Homo sapiens: one gene and its partners. The protein of the gene in region 3 purifies or fractionates together with the protein of the main gene of each other region. This does not show direct contact. Each region holds a gene or a part of one and is shown on either strand. Other genes may lie near its edges. The genes, in order: RBM6, BAHCC1, CPNE7, SUPT5H, EBF3, IDH2 and UTRN.

Region 1 (3,500 bases), on a different chromosome or scaffold from region 3:
CTCAGCCTCCCGGGTAGCTGGGATTACAGGCGTGTGCCACCACGCCTGGCTAATTTTTGTATTTTAGTAGAGACAGGGTTTCACCATATTAGCCAGGCTGGTCTTGAACTCCTGACCTCAAGTGATCTGTCCACCTTGGCCTCCCAAGGTGCTGGGATTACAGGTGTGAGCCATCTCACCCGGCCTATTTTCTGTTTCGTTTTTTTTTTTTTCATTAGTAGCTATCCTAGTGGATGTGAAGTGGTATCTTATTGTGGTTTCTGATTTGCATTTCCCTGATGATAAGTGATGTTGAGCGTCTGTTCATGTTCTTATTGGCTATTTGCATATTCTCTTTTGGAGAAGTATCTATTCATGTCTTTTGTTGACCATTTTAAAATGGGGTTTTTCATCCTGGCTAACACGGTGAAACCCTGTCTCTACTAAAAATACAAAAAAAAAAAAAAAAAAAAATTAGCCGGGCGCAGTGGCAGGCGCCTGTAGTCCCAGCTACTCGGGAGGCTGAGGCAGAAGGATGGTGTGAACCTGGGAGGCAGAGCTCGCAGTGAGCAGAGATTGAGCCACTGCACTCCAGCCTGGGCGACAGAGCGAGACTCCGTCTCAAAAAAAAAAAGGGGGGGGGGGGGGGTTTTGAGCTGGGTGTGCAGGTGCACACCTGTATTCCCAGCTGCTCAGGAGGCTGAGGTAGGTGGATCTCTTGAGCCCAGGTGTTTGAGGGTGCAGTGAGCTGTGATTGCACCACTGGACTCTACCCTGGGTGACAGAGTGGCCCAGTCTCTAAAAATAAAATAAAATTAGGTTTTTGTCTGTGTTGTTGAGTTTTAGGAGTCCTTTATACACTCTAGATATTAATTCCTTGTCAGATATTTGACTTACAAATATTTTCTCTCTGTGGTTGTCTTTATACTCTGTTGATAGTGTCTTTTGATGCACAGAGGTTTTCATTTTGATGAAGTCCAATTTATCTTCTTTTTTTAAAATCTGTGCCTCATCTGCAAATATTACCAATCGAAAGTCATGAAATTTTTCCCCTAAGATTTTATAGTTTTAGCGCTTACGTTTGGGTCTTTGATCCAATTTGAGTTAATTTTTTATATATTTTTGTTGTGTAAGAGTCCCACTTTATTGTTATGCATGTGGATATTCAGTTTTCGGAGTACCATTTTCCATTTGGGAAAAAGATTGTACTTTCCCCATTGGATGGTCTTGACACCTTTGTTGAAAATCAGTTGACTAAAGTTCAAGACTAGCCTTGCCAACATGGCAATATCCCGTCTGTACTAAAAATACCACAATTAGCTGGGCATGGTGGTGCCTGGCTGTAATCCCAGCTACTCGGGAGGCTGAGGCAGGAGAATCGCTTGAACTGGGAGGTGGAGGCTGCAGTGAGCTGAGATTGCGCCACTGCCCTCCAGCCTGGGCGACAGAGCGAGACATGAGAATCTGTCTTAAAAAAAAAAGAAAATTGACCATATATGTGAGGATTTATTTCTGGTCTCTCCATTCAGTTGATTGGTCTTTATGTCTATCTTTATGTCCTTACTGCACTGTTGTGATGGCTGTAGCTAAATGGTACACTTAAAAATGGTTAAAATAGGCCAGGCACGGTGGCTCACGCCTATAATCTTAGCACTTTAGGAGGCTGAGGTGGGCAGATTGCCTGTGCTCAGGGGTTCGAGACCAGCCTAGGCAACATAGTGAAACCCCGATTTTACTAAAATACAAAAATTAGCTGGGTGTGGTGTGTGCCTGTAATTCCAGCTACTCAGGAGGCTAAGGCACAAGAATTGCTTGAGGCCTGGTGCTGTGGCTCACGCCTGTAATCCCAGCACTTTGGGAGGCCGAGGCAGGTCAAGAGATCGAGACCATCCTGGCCAATGTCATGAAACCTAGTCTCTACTAAAAATACAAAAAATTAGCTGGGTGTGGTGGCGCGCACCTAGTCCCAGCTACTTGGGAGGCTGAGGCAGGAGGATCACTTGAACCCAGGAGGTGGAGGTTGCAGTGAGCCAAGATTGCGCCACTGCACTCTAGATTGGCAGCAGAGTGAGACTCTGTCTCAAAAAAGAAAAAAAAAAAAAAGAATTGCTTGAACCCAGGAGGTAGAGGTTGCAGTGAGCTGAGATTGCACCCTGCACTCCAGCCTGGGCAACAGAGTGAGACTATTTACATACCCAATTTTTTTTTTTTTTTTTTTTTGGGATGGTGTCTTGCACTGTCGCCCAGGCTGGAGTGCTGTGGCGTGATCTTGGCTCACTGCAACCTCTGCCTCCTGGGTTCAAGCAATTCTCCTGCCTCAGGCTCTCAAGTAGCTGGGTTACAGGTACCTGCCACCACGCCTGGCTAATTTCTTGTATTTTTAGTAGAGATGGAGTTTCACTATATTGGCCAGGCTGGTCTCAAATTTCTGACCTTGTGATCCGCTGGCCTCAGCCTCCCAAAGTGCTGGGACTACAGGTGTGAGCCACCACGCCTGGTCATACCCAAATATTTTACCATAATTATACAAGAATTTATTATTTTTATTTTTTTCTTTTTAAATTCTTTAATCTTCTTCATTTGTTAATGCTTTGCTGAATCATAAAAAATTATGAAATAAAAAGAATAGGTCTTGTTGATTCTTCTTTTTACTTACCTCCCCCTACTTACCCCCTCTTACTTTATCAAAGAAAACACTTCATTTGAAACTTAACGGAAGTACATTCTCCCAGAGAGGAAAATCCTTCAGGACAACATTTTTTTTTGTTTGCTTGTTTTTTTTGAGACGGAGTCTCACTCTGTCCCCGAGGCTGGAGTGCAGTGGTGTGATCGCAGCTCATTGCAACCTCTGCCTCCCGGGTTCAAGCGATTCTCCTGCCTCAGCCTCCCGAGTAGCTGGGACTACAGGCGCCTGTCACCATGCCCTGCTAATTTCTGTATTTTTAGTAGAAACAGTTGGCCAGGATGGTTTCAATCTTATGACTTTGTGATCTGACCACTTTGGCCTCCCAAAGTGCTGGGAATACAGGCGTGAGCCACAGTGCTCAGCCAATTTTTTGTATTTTTAGTGGAGAAAAGGTTTCACCGTCTTTGCCAGGATGGTCTTGATCTCCTGACCTCGTGATCCGCCCGCCTCCCAAAGTGCTGGGATTACAGGCCTGAGCTACCACGCCCAGCCTTTTTATTTTTTTATTTTATTTATTTTATTCTCAGCCTTCTGGGTAACTGGGACTACAGGTGTATACCACCACGCTCAGCTAATTTATGTATTTTTAGTAGAAATGGGGTTTCGCCATATTGGCCAGGCTGGTTTTGAATTCCTGGTCTCAAGTGATCTGCCTGCCTCCGCCTCCTAAAGTGCTGAGATTACAGGCATGAGCCACTGGCCCAGACTACACTTAAAATTTTCAAATCGAGATATTTTGGGGGGCAAGGGTGCTTCTAGCAGCCACTAATTCCAGTTCTTGAGTGCATATTAAAGTTGCTACTGTTTAAAAGCTTGTAGTTGGATCCAGGGAGTG
Region 2 (2,687 bases), on a different chromosome or scaffold from region 3:
TGCCCATGGGGCTGGCGCTGCGCAAGTACGCGGGCCAGGCAGAGTTCCCGCTGCCCTACGACAGCGACTGCCACAGCTCCTTCTCGGACGAGGACGAGGACGGGCCGGGGCTGGCGGCCGGCGTGCCCTCCCGCTTCCTCGCCCGCCTGTCCGTGTCCTCTTCCTCCTCTGGCTCGTCCACCTCCTCCTCCTCAGGCTCCGTGTCCACCTCCAGCCTCTGCTCCTCCGACAACGAGGACTCGTCCTACAGCTCAGACGACGAGGACCCGGCTCTGCTGCTGCAGACCTGCCTCACCCACCCCGTGCCCACCCTCCTGGCCCAGCCCGAGGCCCTGCGCTCCAAGGGCAGCGGCCCTCACGCGCATGCCCAGCGCTGCTTCCTGTCCAGGGCCACGGTGGCTGGCACCGGTGCGGGCTCAGGCCCCAGCAGCAGCAGCAAATCCAAGCTCAAGCGCAAAGAGGCCCTGAGCTTCTCCAAAGCCAAAGAGCTCTCCCGGAGGCAGCGGCCGCCCTCCGTGGAAAACCGGCCAAAGATCTCAGCCTTCCTGCCCGCCCGGCAGCTCTGGAAGTGGTCGGGGAATCCCACACAGGTAGGTCCAGCGGGAGGCGGGAGGAGCTCCTGGTTCCCAAGGAAACCGGGGCGGGCTCATGCGCCCCTGCTGCCCTTCCCTCTCCTTTTTCATCTTCCTACTTGATTTCAAGTTAAAAAATGTGGAAAACTCAAGGGAAGAACAAAGACCCATCCATGACCCAGTGAGGCAGCCGCTTCCGCTGGCCCCTCGCTGGAGCCCGTGGCCTGCGTGACAGTAGAAATGGCTTCATGTCGGGCCGGGCCTGAGCTGCACTCCGCATGGTGTGGCCTCACTTTTCCACGTTGATAAGTGGCGTGGCCAGCTGGAGAGCTGTGTATCCCCGCACTCAGATGCCTGCGTCTGTCCTCACCAGGGCACTGCTCGGGGGCGCATGTGGGGCCACTCGTGGGTCTTTTGCCTTCGTAAATAACACTGTGGTGAACGTCTTGTCCACATGTCCCTGTCCCAGATCCAGTGTCCAGACGTCATGATTCCATGTGCGGGCTCCGTGGAGGCGTGGCCCCTGCTCCAGATCCATGGCTGCCATGGCCTTAAGCCGCGGTGCTGCGGCTTCCTGCCCTTGTGGGCGCCCTGCACACTCACACTCAGACTCACACTCACACCCACACCACACCCTCCATGCCTCCTGGCCGCCACCTGTCCCCACAGCCCCCCGGCCTCTCAGAGCCACCCTGCCCATGTCCCCCACAGCGGCGTGGCATGAAGGGGAAGGCCCGGAAGCTGTTCTACAAGGCCATCGTGCGGGGCGAGGAGACCCTGCGTGTCGGGGACTGTGCCGTCTTCCTGTCAGCTGGGCGGCCCAACCTCCCCTACATCGGCCGCATCGAGAGCATGTGGGAGTCGTGGGGCAGCAACATGGTGGTCAAGGTCAAGTGGTTCTACCACCCTGAGGAGACCAAGCTGGGCAAGAGGCAGTGCGACGGCAAGGTGAGGCCCGGACAGGTGTGGGGCCCAGCCCCCCTCGGGGCCCCAGGGAGGGGACACGACAGCAGCCAGCACTGTGCCCCAACACGGAGCACCTGGCCCCACCACACAGCCCCCGCTCAGCAGGTACCACGGCCCTGCAGGGAGCCGCACAGCCCATGGGCATGCCCTAGAGCAGGGCTCCCAGGTCCCTCCCCACAGTGGGGGGCTGTGGCCCACAGCAGTGCTCAGCATCCGGCAGGTCTAGTTCACTCCTGGGATGTGTGGCGGCCCCCACCCCGTGGGCCCTCCCTGCCTCCAGTGCCAGCCTGAGACAGAAATTGCACTCAGCACACCCTCTGCTCCTCTCTGAGAAGAAGCCATTTTCCAGACCATATGACACGTCCATCTTTCAGGGAAATTAGTATTTCTCTGACTCCGACAGCCCCCAGAGGGTCCCCGGCAGGTTCCTCGGCCTCTGGACAGACAGGGCTGCCTGGACCTGGTCCCTGGCAGGTTCCTCGGCCCCGTCTTCCGGCCACACAGAAGTCCATCCGGTGACCCTTACAGAGCATGGGTGGGCGGGTGGTCTTTCCTGGCTGGGCAGGGGCGCACTGGCCAAGGCCGGCCACTGATGCCCCGCGCGCCTTGCCCCCAGAATGCGCTGTACCAGTCCTGCCACGAGGATGAGAACGACGTGCAGACCATCTCCCACAAGTGCCAGGTCGTGGCGCGCGAGCAGTATGAGCAGATGGCCCGGAGCCGCAAGTGCCAGGACCGGCAGGACCTCTACTACCTGGCGGGCACCTACGACCCCACCACCGGGCGCCTGGTGACGGCTGATGGCGTGCCCATCCTATGCTGAGCCGCCCACCGCAGATGCCTCCCACGTGCGCCAGGGACCCTGTGTGCGGAGCCTGGCGTCGGCCAAGCCACCGGGCAGGAGGCAGCCCCGGCCTCCCAAGGGCGCATCTGAGCAAATATGCAAAAGCCCACAGGGCAAGACCCAGGCTTTCTTACGGTTTTCCCTGGAAAGAGCGCTCCAGGTGTCGGAATCCAGTCCCGTCCCATCCTCTGCGGAGGGTCGGGCTGTGGCCCTCATGGGTCCCCGGCCCGCCCCACCCACAGCGCCCTCCGTTTCCCGCACCGGCAGTTCACGGGAGATTTGAATCCAAGCCATATTCCCTAGTA
Region 3 (3,500 bases):
TCAAAAAAAAAAAAAAAAAAAGAAGCCTCCTTGTGAGCAGCAGGTCCTACGGTGGCCACTGCTTCCTTGGTGATGCTCTCTGGGTTACGGCCTCCACAGCCAGCCCAAAAGTGGCTTCTGCAAGTCGTGATGAGAGTGTCTGTTGATGTGCTGGGCCCTGCTGGACACTGCGCTAAGCACTTCCTGTGCTGCACGGAATCCTCACACCTTGCCAGGACGGGTCCTTCTTTTTTATTGAGGTAAAATTTACAGGCCGGGCACGGTGGCTCACGCCTGTAATCGCAGCACTTTGGAAGTCCGAGGTGGGGGGATCACGAGGTCAGGAGTTCGAGACCAGCCTGGCCAACATGATGAAACCCCATCTCTACTAAAAATAGAAAAGAAATTAGCCAGGCGTGGTGGTGCGTGCCTGTAGTCCCAGCTACTGGGGAGGCTGAGGCAGGAGAATCACTTGAACCTGGGAGGCAGAGGTTTCAGCGAGCCGAGATCGCGCCACTGCACACCAGCCCAGGTGACAGTGAGTCTTTGTCTCAAAAAAAAAAAAAAATTTTACGATAAAATGCATCAATCTTAAGGGTTGAGAATGACAAGTTTAGGTGACTGTACACAGCTGACCATCACCCGTCACACAGAACATCCCGTCACACGGAACATCTCACCTGTCACACAGAACATCCCTTCACCCCTCACACGGAACATCCTGTCACCTGCTGACACGGAACATCCGATCACCCGTCACACGGAACATCCCATCACACAGAACATCCCATCACTTGTCACATCTCACCCATGACACGGAACATCCCGTCAGCCATCACATCTCACCCGTCACACAGAACATCCCTTCACCCATCACACGGAACATCCCATCACCCATCACATCTCACCCGTCACATGGAACATCCCTTCACCCATCACATGGAACATCCCGTCATCTGCTCACATGGAACATCCCATCACCCATCACACGGAACATCCCATCACCCATCACACAGAACATCTCACCCATCACACGGAACATCCCGTCACCCGCTGACACGGAACATCTCACCCGTCACACGGAACATCCCACACCCATCACACGGAACATCTCACCCATCACACGGAACATCCCGTCACCTGCTGACACGGAACATCTCACCCATCACACGGAACATCCCGTCACCCGCTGACACAGAACATCTCACCCGTCACATGGAACATCCCGTCACCCGTCACACGGAACATCCCATCACACGGAACATCTCACCCATCACACGGAACATCCTGTCACCCGCTGACACGGAACATCTCACCCGTCACACGGAACATCCCATCACCTGCAGACACGGAACATCTCACCCATCACACAGAACATCCCGTCACCCGCTGACACAGAACATCTCACCCGTCACACGGAACATCCCGTCACCCGCTGACACAGAACATCTCACCCGTCACACGGAACATCCCGTCACCCGCTGACACGGAACATCTCCCCCATCACACGGAACATCCCATCACCTGCAGACACAGAACATCTCACCCATCACACGGAACATCCCGTCACCCGCTGACACAGAACATCTCACCCGTCACACGGAACATCCCATCACCCGTCACACGGAACATCCCATCACCCGTCACATGGAACATCCCATCACCCGTCACACGGAACATCCCATCACCCATCACACAGAACATCTCACCCATCACACGGAACATCTCACCCATCACACGGAACATCCCGTCACCCGCTGACACAGAACATCTCACCCGTCACACGGAACATCCCATCACCCGTCACATGGAACATCCCATCACCCATCACACGGAACATCTCACCCATCACACGGAACATCCCGTCACCCGCTGACACGGAACATCTCACCTGTCACACGGAACATCCCATCACCCGTCACATGGAACATCCCATCACCCATCACACGGAACATCTCACCTGTCACACGGAACATCCCGTCACCCGCTGACACAGAACATCTCACCCATCACACGGAACATCCCATCACCCGCTGACACAGAACATCTCACCCGTCACACGGAACATCCCGTCACCTGTAACACGGAACATCCCGTCACCCATCACACGGAACATCCCATCACCCGTCACACGGAACATGCCATCACCCGTCACACGGAACATCCCATCACCCGTCACATGGAACATCTCACCCATCACACGGAACATCCCGTCACCCGCTGACATGGAACATCTCACCCATCACACGGAACATCCCATCACCTGTCACACGGAACATCCCGTCACCCGTCACACGGAACATCCCGTAACCCATCACATGGAACATCCCGTCACCTGTCACACGGAACATCCCATCACCCGTCACATGGAACATCTCACCAATCACACAGAACATCTCACCCATCACATGGAACATCCCGTCACCCGTCACACGGAACATTCCGTCTCCCGCTGACACGGAATATCTGATCACCCATCACATGGAACATCCCATCACCCACTCACACGGAACATCCGATCACCCGTCACACGGAACATCCTGTCACCAGTCACACAGAACATCCCGTCACCCATCACACGGAACATCCCATCACCCGTCACACGGAACATCCCGTCACCCATCACACGGAACATCCCGTCACCCGCAGCTGCCCCTGCCCCTTTGTGGCCAGCTCCCCGCCTGGTTCGTCTCTTCTGGAATTCCACGTCCATGAATCACAGCGCGTGTTCTCCCTGCTGTGGAATTCTTTTACCCAACATAATGTCTGCGTGACTCATCCCCCTGCAGCCTCGGTCGGAGCTGGCGTGCCATCGATCCTGTTGTCCTCCCCATTTTTTAGATAAGGAAACTGAGAGTTAGGGAGGGCACAGATGGAAGAGGATGGCACGGACACAGAAATATGGACATGCTTTTTTTGTTTTTTTGAGTTGGGTTCTCACTCTGCCGCCCAGGCTGGAGTGCAGTGGGACAGTCACAGCTCACTGCAGCCTCAACGGCCTGTGCTCAAGCAATCCTCTCACCTCAGCCTCCTGAGTAGCTGGGACTACAGGTGTACGCCACCAGACCTGGCTACGTTTTGCATTTTTTGAAGAGACAGGGGTCTCACCATGTTGCCCCAACTGGTCTTGAACTCCCGGGCTCACCGATCCACCCACCCTGGGCTCCCAAAATGTTGGGATTATAGGCATGAGCCACTGTGTCTGGCCTGGACACCTTTCTATGTACACACAGGTGCACATGTATGTCATAATCCGTGCAGGACATCCTATGCCTGTTCACATAAGCACACACACAGGGTCCGTGTGGACACCTGCGTGCAGATATGAATGTGTGTGTGAGCACGTGTGCTGTGGATATGTGCAAACTTCCAGCAATGAGGAGGCCCCTCGTGGGTTCCTGCTCTGTGGCCACCCAGCTGACCTGCAGGGCACCACGGTCAAGGGAGAAGCTACTGGCATCCAGTCCCTGTGCTGTGGCTTTGAGCCTGACCTGACCTCTGACCCCTGACTTCTGCCTCAA
Region 4 (3,500 bases), on a different chromosome or scaffold from region 3:
TCTAGCCTGGGCAAGAAGAGTAAAACTCCATCTCAAAAAAACAAACAAAAAAATGAAGTCTTGATATATGCTACAATATGGATGAGTCTTGAAAACATTAAGTGAAGCAAGTCAGTCACGAAAGGCGACATATTGTATGATTCCCTTTGTATGAACCATTCAGAGTTCCAATAGTCAAATCCACAGAGAAAGAAGGTAGATTCATAGTTACCAGGAGCTGTGAGGAGGGAGGAATGGGGAGTGATGACTAATGGGTATCGGTTTATTTTTGGGATAATGAAAATGTCCTGGAATTAGATGGTGATGATGGTTATGAATACACTACAATATATAAAATCCACCACAGTTTACACTTTAAAAAAATTAAATTTTAGGCTGGGCACAGTGGCTCAGAACTGCCATCCCAGCACTTTGGGAGGCCAAGGCGGGTGGATCACTTGAGCCAGGAGTTCAAGACCAGGCTGGCCAACATGGTGAAACCCCGTCTCTATTAAAAATACAAAAAAATCAGCCGGGCATGGTGGCGGATGCCTATAATCCCAGCTACTCGGGAGGCTGAGGCAGAGGTTGCAGTGAGCCGAGACCACACCATTGCACTCCAGCCTGGGCAACAAGAGTGAAACTCCGTCTCAAAAAAAAATAATAATCAGAGACATAACTCAAATGAAGTAACTAGAATTTTACCCCAGGGTACCATGTAGGAGGATTTGAGCACACTTCTTTTAATTATTATTATTATTATTTTTTTTTTTTTTTTTTTGAGACAGTCTCGCTCTGTTGCCCAGGCTGGAGTGCAGTGGCACGAGCTTGGCTCACTACAACCTCCAACTCCTGGGTTCAAGCAATTCTCCTGTCTCAGCCTCCCAAGTAGCTGGGATTATAGACATGCACCACCACCCCTGGCTAATCTTTTGTATTTTTGGTAGAGACGGAGTTTCACCATGCTGGTGAAGCTGGTCTCGAACTCTTAACCTCAGGTGATCCACACGCCTCAGTCTCCCAAAGTGCTGGGATTACAGGCGTGAGCCACCGCGCCCGGCCTATTATTATTTTCTTTGTAGAAATCAGTTGTCACTATGTCACTATGATGTCCAGGCTGGCCTCGAACTCCTTTTGCCTCAGCCTCCCAAAATACTGGTATTACAGACATTAGCCACCACACCTAGCCAAAAGGTACCTTTTCAACCTCCCTGTTGGGGAATCATACCCCACAAATCCCAATCTCACCCATGACAGGCAGGGACACTTATTACTATAATAATGAGGAAGACATTCCACCCCCTACCCACCCCGAGACGGAGTCTCACTCTGTCGCCCAGGCTGGAGTGCAATAGCGCAGTCTTGGCTCACTGTAACCTCTGCCTCCTAGATTCAAGTGATTCTCCTGCCTCAGCCTCCCAAGTAGCTGGGATTACAGTCAAGCACCACCATGCCCAGCTGATTTTTGTATTTTTGGTAGGGACAAGGTTTCACCATGTTGGCCAGGCTGGTCTCAAACTGGCTGGTTTCGAACTCCTAACCTCGTGATCCACCCACCTCAGCCTCCCTAAGTGCTGGAGATTCAGGCATGAGCCACCATGGCCGGCCTTTGAGGAGGACATTTGAGCACATTTAAAAGCATAGTTTGCAAACCCTACAACTGTCTACTTGGTCCCACTGGGTCACACCCAGTGGCTGGACAGGTGAAAGCATGATCCCTAGCAGGGATCATGTTAACTGAGAAAGTTACCAGCCAGCACCCTTCATAGCGTTTGCCCTGGTTCCCAAACTGCCAATGAAGCCTTTGACAACAGCTCTGCTAAGTAAATGCAAGCTGCAGAACAAGTCCTAGCTGAGAGCTGGACATAAAGCCACCTAATCCTTTTTTTTGTCACACTGGAGTGCAGTGATGCGATCTCGGCTCACCGCAACTTCTGCCTCCTGGGTTCAAGTGATTCTGCCTCAGCTTCCCAAGTAGCTGGGACTACAGGTGTGCACCACCACGCCCAGCTGAGTTTTGTATTTTTAGTAGAGACGGGGTTTCACCACGTTGGCCAGGCTGGTCTCAAACTCCTGACCTCAAGTGATCTGCCTGCCTCAGCCTTCCAGAGTGCTGGTATTACAGGTGAATGCCACTGCACCCAGCCAAAAGCCACTTAATCCTAATGATGCTGAGAGGCAACCAAGGGGCCCAGAGAGGGGAAGTAGGTGCATCAGAGTCACACAGCTAAGAAGTGGCAAGGGCAGGACTCAAACTCTGTCAGTCTAAAGAAAGACCTGGGCCTTGGATGCAGCATTTGCTGCCTGGCATGTGGTGAAGTGGGTGACCCCAGCCCAACAGGGCTGGTGAACAGGCAAACCCACTCTCATGAAGAAAAGGTGCAGGAAGCTAGCTGGCTGACTTCCAAAGGGCTACAAGGGTGGGAAGACCCTGCCATAAATGCAGAGAACAAAGACAACATATCCATCTAGGCCGAGAAGAGCCCTTCCATCTAGGCAGTGGTCTTATTCCAGCTCAAGCAGCTCACTCAGCAGGCAGCTCTGCTCACAACAGAGGCACCTGGTACCCCTGAAGTTGACAATGTTCTTCCCTCTGGGTGTTGCCATGTCTCCCCACCAAGCCGCCTGTCTACCCGACTTACCGTGTCTGTGAACTGGTAGGCAATGAACTTGCGCATCAAGGAAATGGCCGTGGCCCGTTCCTCCCCAATCTGGAAGATGAGAGGCAGATTTGAGAGAGATGACAGGATGGAGGAAAGGACACAGGAAAGGGGGAAGGAGACAGCAGCAAGAAAAATAAAGTAGGACCAAGAGAGGAGAGAGAAAGAAGGATGGACAGCCAGGAAGATGGAGGTGGGAGATAGCCAGTCAGTAACGTGGAGTGAGGGATGGAGACAGAAGGACCAAGTGACTGGCAGGCCACGGAGACCCGGGACAGACAGACACTTCTCCCCCACAAAGCAGCCTCCCTCATTCTCCCACCTCCTCCAAGCCCCGAGATCAGAGCACATACCTTACATTTGACAGTCCACAGATTGGGATCCCTAAGCAGCAGAGGAAAAGGAAGGCCTTCAGTGAAGCTGGATCTTCAGTAACAAACAGACGAACCCCCAGGGCCACCCCCTTCCTCTGGTTTCACATCCAGGTTCCCTCACACTCACTGACTTCCCCACGCTTCTACCCAGGAGCAAGAGGAAAGAGAAAGTGCCACCTTGCCCTCCCTACCCCTGCCATCCACCACACTGCCTGTGTGACTCTGCCCTGACTTATTTCAGGGAGCCACCTGTCTAGGCACCATCACCCCATACAAGATTCGCACCCCAGCACGGCCCCCACCATCCCAACCCCCTTACTTGACTCCTGGGAGCAGCTGCTGCTGGGTGATGTCGTCTGAGAGCTCATCAGATCCTCCATACACCCTGAAGGGAGGAGGGCAGTCAGGAAGGGGTGAAGCTCTGTCAGATCCCCGCCCCTTCCCGCTTAGGGACCACCTGCTCCCTGCCCCCACCTGCCCCCACCAT
Region 5 (4,205 bases), on a different chromosome or scaffold from region 3:
TCCTTCCAAGAGGCGTGGGGGTCCCCAGACAACGTGAATCGGACTTCGACTTTCCCGATTAATTAAAATATTAACGTACACACGCTGCCAATTCACGGGAAAAGGGAGTGCTGCCCCAGACCCGGCGGGAGGAGGCTGCCCTGCAACACACTTGCGCCCTGCAATCTTTTTTTTTTTTTTCTTTTAATCAAAAGGGCCTGATTTCTCTTGGCAGGGAAGTGCCTAGGACAGTTCCTGGTCGTCCCCTGGGTCTCTGCTCCGTGTCGCGCAGACGTCCTTTGGGCGGGCCGCGCTCCTGGGCGCGGAGTCCCGGCTACAGGAGCTGGGCCGCGGGGCCCACAGTCTGCCCGCGCCCGGCTGCCCTCCCGATTCCTAGAAACCAGGTCGGGAAGCCGCGCGCCGCGCGCTCACCCGGGTCCGGCGGCTCCGAGGGCCGGGCCACAGCGCCCGCGGCGTCCGCTTGGTTTTTGGAGCAGTTGGCTCCAGGGCGGTCTGGCCACCGCGCAGGTCGCGCAGCCAGACACCCGGCTCCGGGTCGCCGGAGAGGCCGGGCGCGCTTCCCGTCGGCCCGGAGAGACCGGAGCCTTCTTTGTCACTCGCTGTGCGTAAGAACAGGCCAGGGGCCGGGGTCTGCCGCGGCCACCGGGGGAGAGGGAGCATCTGGCAGACCCTGCCTCCGACGTGATTCCCTGCCCGGCACTCGGCGGCCTCCGCCGGGGTAGGAAGCTTGGGGTACCTGGCGGGGCTCAGACCGGGACCGGCCGGCCCTGCAGCAGCCTTAGGTCTGCTTAGAAATCAGGCTGAGCTGCGCGTCCAGCCTTGGCCGGGGAGCCCTGGGCACCCCTCCTCCCAGTCCGTTGCCCGCTCCTCCCTCCGGCGCCCTCCCTGCGGTCGACCTGCCTCTTCCCACTTCTCCTTCGGGCGGCCCCAGGACAAGCTGCAGCCCCTTGCATTTATTGCATGCATCTGGGCAACTTGGGGCGCCTCAGCATTTTACAGCCCCCCGCCCCGCCCATCGTGTTCGACTGTGTGGCAGGTTTTGCAGGGAGGTATTAAGGGGCCAAACTGCAATTGTGCAGTGGCTGCGTTTGTTTCTTTTCAAGATTTATTTGGGCGAGTAGTAACTTCCTTGGCCGCGGCTGGACGCGAGGAGCCGCGGTGCGTGGCGGGGGGCGGCGGCGGCGCTCGGTGGCGCTCGGCGGCGGCGGGGCTCGCGGGGCTCGCGGGGCTCGGGCCGGCTCGCGGCGCCGTCAGGCAGTCAGTCGGCGAGCGCGGCGGCGGCGGCGGCGAGGGGCGCGGCGAGGGGCGGCCGCTCCCATATATGGCGCAGGCACCGCCCCCCGACGTCACCCTCTGACAGCGCCGCTCCCGGGGGCTTCGAGTTTTGGCTCCCGGGAAAGGGTCCATTCCTCGGGGAGAGAGGGCTGAGTTTTGTGCGCCTCCGTCCGCTGCGCGCGCCGCTCCAGGCCCCGCCGCGCCCCGCCTGCGCCCGGGACTGCGCCGCAGCACTCACTGCCCCGTTTATTTGTCTTTGGAGCAGGCGGGCCGCGCCAGAAGCGGGCGATCCCGCAGTGTCCTGCAGCCGCGGACGCCGCCTGGCTAGGATGACACCACGTTGAGCGCGCCTGCAAACAACAACAACAACAAGCGCCGCCGCGGCCACCGCGTCCTGCTCCTTCGAAGCGCCGCCGCCGCCGGTGGAGCCGCCTCCGCGCCCCTGGCCGTCCGGAGCGCCCGGCCGCTGGTGTATGTCGCGCCTGCCCGGGACGGGCTGAAGCCGGCGGCGGGGCCGGACCGCAGGCGCCGAGCAGGGCGAGGGCGGCCAGGGCAGCCGCCTGCCGCCAAGCCCCGAGCGCCGCTGCTCGAGGAAACGCTTTCGGCCGGGAGCTGCGGCCGCCGCCAGCAGTTTTCATGTTTGGGATTCAGGAGAATATTCCGCGCGGGGGGACGACCATGAAGGAGGAGCCGCTGGGCAGCGGCATGAACCCGGTGCGCTCGTGGATGCACACGGCGGGCGTGGTGGACGCCAACACGGCCGCCCAGAGGTACGTACCGGCCGCCCCCGCGCGCCCTGGCCCCGGCCCCGGCCCGGCCCGGCCCCCTCCGCCGGCCGGCGCCGCGCTCCTCACCGGGCCGCTGTCTCTTTCCTCCCGCAGCGGCGTGGGGCTGGCGCGGGCGCACTTCGAGAAGCAGCCGCCTTCCAACCTCCGGAAATCCAATTTCTTCCACTTCGTGCTGGCGCTCTACGATAGGCAGGGGCAGCCGGTGGAGATTGAAAGGACCGCTTTTGTGGACTTTGTGGAGAAAGAGAAAGTAAGTGCAAACACACGATCACACCCTCTCTCTTTCTAGAAGCGGGAGGCAGGCGGTGCCGGTGCGCGGGGGTTCGAGTGCCCCCCTAGGCGGCGGGCTCGGCTCCGCCAGGCCACCCCGCCGCCGCCACGTGCGGCCGCCCGGGACCGCCGAGGGCTGGGCAACTTCTCTGCGCCCTCGGACTTACTCGGGGCGAGGAGAACGCTGGGCTTCCAGCAGGAAAGTGACATCACCGCGCTGCTTCGAGCTAGGAATCCTGCCATGTGTGAGGCCGAGAGCCTCGGTCGCGGAGGGGGACCGAGCGTGGTGGCCGCGCCTGACACCGATCGCACTAAATGCAATTATTTATCGTTACTTTCAGGAGCCAAACAACGAGAAAACCAACAACGGCATCCACTATAAACTCCAGTTATTGTACAGCAACGGTAAGTGCCTGCTGCGTGCTCGCCGCCCCTGCAGCGGCTGGCTCTCCTTTTCTGCGCTGGTGAAAGGACATAAAGATTTGAGATTAAAATGACATGGATGTAAACACGAAATCTTCTCATGGCATAGAAGGAAAACAAAACATAAACGATCAATAAGTCGATGGCACTTCACATGATTAACCGGTGGGGCTTGAAGTAGAAAGTAAGAAAAAGATCGATACGGGCTCCAGCAGAACATCACTTTTAAGTGACTTTTTTCAATTTTGCAAATTAATGTTAATTATTAGGATGGGGGTAACTCCATAAACGGAGCATAACTTACTTCCTGTGAACGAGTTTTTTTTTTTTAAATCCTCGAGAGACATTAGAAAGAGTTCAGCCTCTCACTCAGTTTCCATTTGGTGCTTTTTCTTTTCTAAAAATAAACGACCACATGGGCCCACCGCACACAGCTACCAGGCCTGCTCTCCACCAGGCAAGTTCCTTGCACCTTGAAATGCAAGCCCTAAGAGCCTTAAGGTTCTTAGTTAAGAAAAGAAAAAAAAAATTAAGCGAGAAGTGGTGGGGTTCTCTTTCTCCCTTTCAAAGGGATTGCCTAAGTTCTGCTGCATCACCGTGGCAGCAGTCCTGAGTTACAGACTTCCTGTGCTCCGTGTGCCCTCCCCGAGGTGCAGCACTCAAATCCTGATGAGAATTTGTCTCTGTTTTTTTGCAGGAGTCAGAACAGAGCAAGATCTGTATGTTCGCCTCATAGATTCAATGACCAAACAGGTGAGAAAGTTTATGCCTCTGCACGAGTTTTCACTGCTGGGCCTGGGTTGTCCTGGGCTTCAGAGGCAAGGGCACTGACAAATGGATCTCGTGTATTTGTTTTCCATTGAGTTTCCTTGACATGCTAATGAGAATTCCATATTTATTGGAATGAATGAAGCGATTGGTAAAATAGTTTATGTTGTCATTAGAACAGGACATATATGCTTTATTAAATGTCTTGTGATTGGAATCATATTCTGTCTTAATTAATTATGGTAATTAATATTTGACAAAAATTTCAAGATGTCCCCCCTCTTGTTTATTTTTAAATGCTTCTCTCTCTGCTAGGAATCAGTTCATTTGGATTTTTTTTCCTATAACAAAGGCAGCTAACTCCTAAGCCCATCGAGTTGGACTTGATTAGTTCATTTTTTTTCTCCTTTCCAGTGTGATGGTCTAGTAACACGAGACGTTTATTTGGATTTAAAAGTTAAATGTGTTGGGGTGAAAAGTCACCTTGTTCTCCTCTAGTCCATCTTCACCTCGCAGCCCCCCAGCTCCATAATTCAAACTCCAAGCTCCAGGGGTCACTCCAACCCGTCCACTGCTCTGCCCCCTCTCCCACCCTCTGTCATACCTTGTAAATAACATAATTACAAGCAGTTCCTTATTAAATTATTTAACCTGTCTTGGTCAACTTTTCCGATGATAACT
Region 6 (3,500 bases), on a different chromosome or scaffold from region 3:
CATCATAGCTTACTGCAGCATTGACTTCCTGGCTTCAAGTGATCCTCTGACCTCAGCCTCCCAAGTAGCTGGGACTACAGGCGCATGCCACCACACCCAGCTATTTTTAATTTTTTTTTTTTCTGAGACGAAGTTTCGCTATTGTCCCCCAGGGTGGGAGTGCAGTGGCATGATCTCAGCCCACTGCAACCTCCGCCTCCCGAGTTCAAGTGATTCTCGGGCCTCAGCCTCCCAAGTAGCGGGGATTTCAGGTGTGCACCACAACACCTGGCTAATTTTTTGTATTTTTAGTAGAGACAGGGTTTCACCATGTTGGCCAGGCTGGTCTCAAACTCCTGACCTCAAGTGATCCACCTGCCTTGACCCCCGCAAAGTGCTGGGATTACAGGCGTGAGCCACCGTGCCAGCCTAATTTTAAAATTTTTTTGTAGAGATGGAGTCTTGCCCTGTTGCCCAGGCTGGCTGGACTCCCCACCCCACCCCCACTTTAATCTGGCTAGGTAGAACTACCCAAAAACATGCCCAGCCCACCAGTGGCCAAGAGGGTGGGGGCCAGTCTGGCCTGTCAGACCCTCTCCCCCTGGAATATGAAGGCAGAGGAGATCAACACAAAGAACACTGGCTAGCTGCGGCTGCCTCATCCAGCACCAAATCAGTAAGAGGTTGTCCAGGGGCTCCTGCCATCCAGTTCCTAAGGAGGGCCTGGGTCCTCTTTTATGTATTTACTTATTGTTTAGAGTCAGGGTCTCTTTATCTCTCTCTGTTGCCCAAGCCAGGCTCAGACTCCGGGGCTCAAGCAATCCTTGCACCTCAGCCTCCTTAGTAGCTGGGGCTACAGGCCCATGCCAAGATATTACTTTTGTCCAAGACTTAGTTCTTTATAGTTTTCCCTGCAATTCTATGAGCTACGCTGTGTAGCTCATAATAAAATCCTCTCCAAGTTAACCAGTCACTAACTTTGTCTGTTGCGTGCAACCCAAGAGCCCTCAACTAACTTGTGGTGATAAAGGAAATAGTATAGATAGGTATTGAGTGCCTACTATGTGCCTTACAGTGTACCAATGCTGTACAATGTGATTCCATTTAATCCCAAAAACAACCCCAAGGAGGTATCATTACCTCCATTTTATTTAATTAATTAATTTATTTATTTATTTATTTATTTTTTGAGACAGAGTCTTTGGTCTGTCACCCAGGCTGGAATGCAATGGCGTGATCTCGGCTCACTGCAACCTCTGCCTCCCGGGTTCAAGCGATTCTGCTGTCTCAGCTTCCTGAGTAGCTGGGATTACAGGCACACGCCACCAGGCCCGGCTAATTTTTGTATTTTTAGTAGAGACGGGGTTTTGCCATGTTGGCCAGGCTGGTCTCGAACTCCTAGCCTCAGGTGATCCACCCACTTTGGCCTCCCAAAGTGCTGGGATTACAGGCGTGAGCCACCACGCCTGGCCATTATCTCCATTTTAAGTGTGGGAAACTGAGGCTCAGAGAGGTTAACAGCTTACTGCCCAAGGTTACAGAGCTTGAAAACAGCAGAGTCACGAGGACTCTGACCCTATTCAACAGGAAGGACAGGCTTACAGCACCTGCGAATGGAACTCAGAACCCTTGATCCCAGCCGACGCAGGTGGGTCAGTCCTACCAGAGAAGCATCAAAGGACTCAATGAGGGGCTGATCAGAGGTCCAGGGAGACCAGTGGAGGGTAGGGGGCAGGGGACGCTACTGAAGGAGAGTCTGACTCGCAGGAATACCCAACAGTCTGGGAAGTGAATTTCAAAGAAAACTCAGGAACTGGCCACCTAACAATGAATCAGTACAGCTGCCTTGGACAAGGCTTGTTGAACCTCAGCCTGCAGCAGATAGGGGCACCGGGGCACCAGCCTGCTCCTCTGCCCACAGCCTGGGAAGAAGCAGCAAATGCAGAGCAGGGAACAAGATCTAATAAAACTTCAGTCACAGGGAAATCTCACCAGCTCAGCTGAGAGCTGTGCCCTTTCCTCAAAGCAGCACTCCTCAGCCTCACTTACAGCCCAATTACTCTTGTGTTACACACAGTCCTTAGAGAGGTGGTGATGTGTCTTCAGCTCCACTCTAGATTAGACACAGCAAATCAGGTGAAGGGAAGAGAATGATTATTTGAAAACACTGGGTTGGGGCTGGGTGTAATGGCTCATGCCTGTAATCCTAGCACTTTGGGAGGCTGAGGCAGGTGGATCACTCAAGGTAAGGAGTTCAAGACCAGCCTGGCCAACATGGTGAAACCCCATCTCTACTAAAAATAGAAAAATTAGGCATGGTGGCACGTGCCTATAATCCCAGCTACCGAGGAGGCTGAGGCAGGAGAATCGCTTGAACCCGGGAGGTGGAGGTTGCAGTAAGCCAAGATCACGGCACTGCACTCCAGCCTGGGCAACAGAACGAGACTCCATCTCAAAAAAACAAACAAACAAACAAAAAAAACTGGGTGGGAAGAACTGACAAGGGACAGAATACCTGTGAAAAGCAGGCCTAGAAACCACCTCGGCACATTTAAAACAAAAGTGATTAAAGCCTAACAGACCTCAAACAACTGACTTTCCAAAGATATGCAAAGAGTTTGTTTTTTTTTTTTAATCTAAAAATAATCTTAGAGATCATTTAGGGGGAATAATGAGACTCAGAGAGTGTGGTCTGCATCAGAGGCAAGATAGAGCCCAGGTCCCTGACCCAAATGCAGCCTCTGGAAGACCCGTGGGTCAGATGTAGAGAAGCAGAACACAAACACAGCCTTGGACTATTCCATTCCCTAGAGAACAAAAGGTGGCTGGCTGCTGGCTCTACTGCCTTTCCCAAGACGCGATGGGGATTTTGAACCCAATCTACAATATTCCTTCACTTTTTTCTGAAGCTTGAGTGGAAAGAGCTGCAGAACCTGCGGAAAGTCTGTTGAGCTGTTGCAGAGCTAGTTTAGTTCTGGGGAGCATCTCCTATGAGTTAATTTGAGGACAGCTAATCAAATTTGTTAAAAAAAAAAAAAAATGAACTATCATAATCAGGAGCCCTAAGGAGAGACTCACTTGGGGCCAGTTCTTCAGGTTTCAGCCTCAGCCTGGGCTCCACGGTTGGGCTTCAGGCAGGCATGGCTAGGAGAGTTCAAGGTCAAGATCAAAGACCTGATGTGTCAAACCCTCAGAGACCACAGGACCTGATTATTTACTCACCGGCAGGTGCTAACTAAGCACTTATCCAGTACCCCACTGGGATACTGAAATGCCTAAAACACAACAGTGCCTGCCCGGAGGCAGTGAATGTGGAAGGGGAAACCTACAGGTAACAGAGAGAGAGCAAGCAGGGCTGTCACCAAAGTCAGGAGTGCCCAGGCCTCCCTGGAAGCAAACATCCCAGGGGAACTGAGAACAGCAACATGAGCCAAGGCCAGCAGAGACTTGTTCTGCTTGTTCCAGGTACTGGTTTTTTAAAAAAATCTTAATTGGTGACCAAGTTTTAAAAATCAGTAAAT
Region 7 (3,500 bases), on a different chromosome or scaffold from region 3:
AGAGCATAGAAACAATTTTAGAAAATAAAATAGCGTGAGGCTGGGCGCAGTGGCTCACACCTGTAATCCCAGAACTTTGGGAGGCCGAGGTGGGTGGGTCACGAGGTCAGGAGATCAACACCATCCTGGGCAACATGGTGAAACCTCGTCTCTACTAAAAATACAAAAATTAGCTGGGCATGGTGGCACATGCCTGTAATCTCAGTTACTCAGGAGGCTGAGGCAGGAGAATCGCTTGAACCAGGGAGTCGGAGGTTGCAGTGAGCTGAGATTGCACCACTACACTCCAGCCTGGTGACAGAGCAAGACTCTGTCTCAAAATAATAATAATAATAATAATAATAATAATAATAATAATAATAAATAAAATAGTGTGTTTCATTTGACTTTCATAGCTGATATACTTGGTTTTCTTCGTTTAGCTTATCTTGTTCCTAGAGCTCTTCATCTAGTAAAATACAGTAGAGTAGTTGGGCATCTGGATAATGTGGCTTTATGAATCAATGCCCATTGTGGTTGCCTAAGCATATAAGCCCAGGAAGTTTGGTGAAGGTCCTATGTTTTGTAAACGTTTCCCTTGATTCCAATAGTGATAGACTGAGAAGTGTAAAGTCAAGTGAGACTGAGTGGCAGGAATGTGTTCTATGTTCTCCCTTTTAGACAATTAATAAAGTGATCTTCTGTTGATTTTGCCTTTTGACTAGTCACCTTCTAAGAACTCTGTGTTTTATAGAAATAGAAAATTTTAAACTCTGGATCTCTGGGAGTAAAACAACTATTTTTAAAGACAATGTGCAGTTTTCCTTTTATAAGATGTAAATTGTGTTTGAATCATTACCGGGCATCACTGTAACCAGCAATATCTCAGGATTAGAGAAAGGGAGATTCAGATGTTTAAAATTGGTTTAAAGAGGCAAAATGAATGGCTTGTAAGACATTGTCAGTGAAAAAATAACTGAAGTTGTTTTAACCGCCCTTGTTCTTGAAGTGAGCACCTCTTTCCAGTTTTCTAGATGAGTAGTGGTAATTTTCCATCTCAGAAATTTTATTTACCTACTTAATTTTCTTCCTTGATTAGTATGAATTGTCCAACATAAAGATGATGTGGCTGGTGTTACTATTCCTTTGCCTGCCTAGAATAGAAATGATGGGGCAGGGGCATGACCCATATCTCCATTGTTCATATTGTTAGGAAAATGGTGATTTGTTTTGTATACTCTCCCCATTAACAGGGGTAATGCAGCATGGCTTGTGGTGTGAATGCTTTGCTTATGTCTCATATTCTCTTACCTGAGAGATGGTGGTGAACAGTGAACTTCTGCAATTGACATAGGTGACACATTCAAATGACAGCATGATATGCCCTCATTTATGATTTTCAGTAGACACAGTGTATTATAAAAATTTTCAAAGTTGCATTGTCTGTGGATCATACATGACTTTTTGTTTTTATGCCTTTGTTTTTTAGTTCAAGCTCTCATTATCCTGGATTTTGATCATATATGTTTATAAAGCAGGATTGTTTTATTGCTTTCCTACTCAATAAAAATGTGAAGCCATCCTTTTGGTATGCATGTTTTCCTCCGAATAGAAAGATTCCTTTGAAGATTTCCCATACTTTTTCATAGTCATTTTAGAGGATTTGAAGGTATTTTAGATTAAGGGAAGGACTATGATAAAACCTATTATTATATATGACTTTATTATTTTTAGGAACATTCTCTACTTTTCAAAAATATCGGACAAATAAAATGATAAGATTTCAGTAATAAAAATGGTGGCATTGTTTTCCCTGATGTGTTTCTAAAGTAGATCATCTTATTGCTGCCTCAGTCTTTTGGTATTTGCTTATTTATGTGCAAGGTCTCCAGTGGGCTTGCTGATGCTTCTAGAGCCTGGCTGCTGGCTTAATATTCCTGCACTCACCAGGTTGCTTCCCAGCATAAGGCATCCTCGCCATTCATTTTTTAATTTATATGACACTGTGCTTTGGTCACCAAGACCTGAGCTGCCTCCTAGTTTTTCTAGCCAGCTTTCTTTTTTTCTTAGGACAAAGGGTCTTCTTTCTGAAGTCGGGCCTAGACAGATCAAGGTAGTTGATCTTATTTCACTGGTTCAGGTGATAAACTAGCAGAGTAGAAGCATGGCATGGATGGAAACATATATTATCTAGAAAAGGCAGTGGCTGAAGTTCTACTGATGTGCCTGAATCGTTATTTTAAAATGTCTTTCTTCTTTGTTCAAGGAATTGAAATAAACATCATTATTTTTAAGTGCATCATTATAAATTTTTGTTGTTGTATTAAAAGGGACTTAAGAAAGTGATCATTATGTGTGACATTGCCTCACTATTCTGAGTGTTAGAATGTTCAGAATAAATTCAAGACACATTTTGTAATATATAGACTGTTTGCTTGTTTTTCATGTCTGCATAGAAGGCCTTCCTACTGAAGAAATAAAAAATGTTCTGGAGAAGGTTTCATCAGAATGGAAGAATGTATCTCAACATTTGGAAGATCTAGAAAGAAAGATTCAGCTACAGGAAGATATAAATGCTTATTTCAAGCAGCTTGATGAGCTTGAAAAGGTCATCAAGACAAAGGAGGAGTGGGTAAAACACACTTCCATTTCTGAATCTTCCCGGCAGTCCTTGCCAAGCTTGAAGGATTCCTGTCAGGTAAGGAGCCAACGGTCTGGAAAGTGGAGGAATTCTATGTGCAGTTCCAGAGTTAAGGAGGGCTTCTCGTATCATGAACTTTAAGTTAATGCTGCCCTGATTAACTTCCTGTGAGGATGTTCATCTTCAGTGAGTTGTGTGACCGTATTTTCTCTTCCTTAGCGGGAATTGACAAATCTTCTTGGCCTTCACCCCAAAATTGAAATGGCTCGTGCAAGCTGCTCGGCCCTGATGTCTCAGCCTTCTGCCCCAGATTTTGTCCAGCGGGGCTTCGATAGCTTTCTGGGCCGCTACCAAGCTGTACAAGAGGCTGTAGAGGATCGTCAACAACATCTAGAGAATGGTAAACCCAACAATTTTAAAATCTCCTGTCTCAGTTTGCCTTAATGTAAACATGACTCCCAACATTTAGAACTTGAGTACACTTGCTTGCTTTGCACCAACCTTCTCCATTTTCCTTTGTGCCTGTATTGTTCAAAGTCTTAAAGTCTTCTGTATTCAGATTCTTTTCCAGATTCACACCTTTTTGTAAACATACAAGCAAGTTTCACATTCTCTAAAATTGTGTCAGTAGGATATAATAATAATTTTTTTTTTTGTAGCTACAGGATCTCACTCTGTCACCCAGGCTGGAGAGCAGTGGTGCAATCATAGCTGCAGTCTTGACCTCCTGGGTTTCAGTGGTCCTTCTGCCTCAGCCTACTGAGTAGCTGGGACTACAGGCATGCACCACCATGCCTGGCTGGTTTTTTATTTTTAGTAGAGCCAGGGTCTAGCTATGTTGCCCACGCTGGTCTAGAACTCCTGGGCTCAAGTGATCTTC

The links.
Region 1: the proteins of CPNE7 (region 3) and RBM6 purify together in Homo sapiens (co-immunoprecipitation; one large-scale study listed by IntAct). This does not show direct contact.
Region 2: the proteins of CPNE7 (region 3) and BAHCC1 purify together in Homo sapiens (affinity purification with mass spectrometry; 2 studies listed by BioGRID and IntAct, with this or other methods). This does not show direct contact.
Region 4: the proteins of CPNE7 (region 3) and SUPT5H purify together in Homo sapiens (affinity purification with mass spectrometry; one large-scale study listed by BioGRID and IntAct). This does not show direct contact.
Region 5: the proteins of CPNE7 (region 3) and EBF3 purify together in Homo sapiens (affinity purification with mass spectrometry; 2 studies listed by BioGRID and IntAct, with this or other methods). This does not show direct contact.
Region 6: the proteins of CPNE7 (region 3) and IDH2 purify together in Homo sapiens (co-immunoprecipitation; one large-scale study listed by IntAct). This does not show direct contact.
Region 7: the proteins of CPNE7 (region 3) and UTRN purify together in Homo sapiens (co-immunoprecipitation; one large-scale study listed by IntAct). This does not show direct contact.

Annotation. Positions count from the first base shown.
Region 1 is NC_000003.12:49,946,650-49,950,149, forward strand, and holds part of RBM6 (RNA-binding protein 6), read left to right. Parts: intron 1-3,500. UniProt on the Homo sapiens protein: Specifically binds poly(G) RNA homopolymers in vitro.
Region 2 is NC_000017.11:81,461,457-81,464,143, forward strand, and holds part of BAHCC1 (BAH and coiled-coil domain-containing protein 1), read left to right. Parts: coding exon 1-590; intron 591-1,283; coding exon 1,284-1,520; intron 1,521-2,154; coding exon 2,155-2,361; 3' UTR 2,362-2,687.
Region 3 is NC_000016.10:89,578,758-89,582,257, forward strand, and holds part of CPNE7 (copine-7), read left to right. Parts: intron 1-99; coding exon of another isoform or gene 100-239; intron 240-3,500. UniProt on the Homo sapiens protein: Calcium-dependent phospholipid-binding protein that may play a role in calcium-mediated intracellular processes.
Region 4 is NC_000019.10:39,459,082-39,462,581, reverse strand, and holds part of SUPT5H (transcription elongation factor SPT5), read right to left. Parts: intron 3,399-3,500; coding exon 3,333-3,398; intron 3,024-3,332; coding exon 2,993-3,023; intron 2,691-2,992; coding exon 2,622-2,690; intron 1-2,621. UniProt on the Homo sapiens protein: Component of the DRB sensitivity-inducing factor complex (DSIF complex), which regulates mRNA processing and transcription elongation by RNA polymerase II.
Region 5 is NC_000010.11:129,961,475-129,965,679, reverse strand, and holds the start of EBF3 (transcription factor COE3), read left to right. Parts: upstream 1-1,405; 5' UTR 1,406-1,911; coding exon 1,912-2,045; intron 2,046-2,156; coding exon 2,157-2,313; intron 2,314-2,674; coding exon 2,675-2,738; intron 2,739-3,453; coding exon 3,454-3,509; intron 3,510-4,205. UniProt on the Homo sapiens protein: Transcriptional activator. Recognizes variations of the palindromic sequence 5'-ATTCCCNNGGGAATT-3'.
Region 6 is NC_000015.10:90,092,469-90,095,968, forward strand, and holds part of IDH2 (isocitrate dehydrogenase [NADP], mitochondrial isoform 1 precursor), read right to left. Parts: intron 1-3,500. UniProt on the Homo sapiens protein: Plays a role in intermediary metabolism and energy production. It may tightly associate or interact with the pyruvate dehydrogenase complex.
Region 7 is NC_000006.12:144,456,335-144,459,834, forward strand, and holds part of UTRN (utrophin), read left to right. Parts: intron 1-2,435; coding exon 2,436-2,677; intron 2,678-2,839; coding exon 2,840-3,020; intron 3,021-3,500.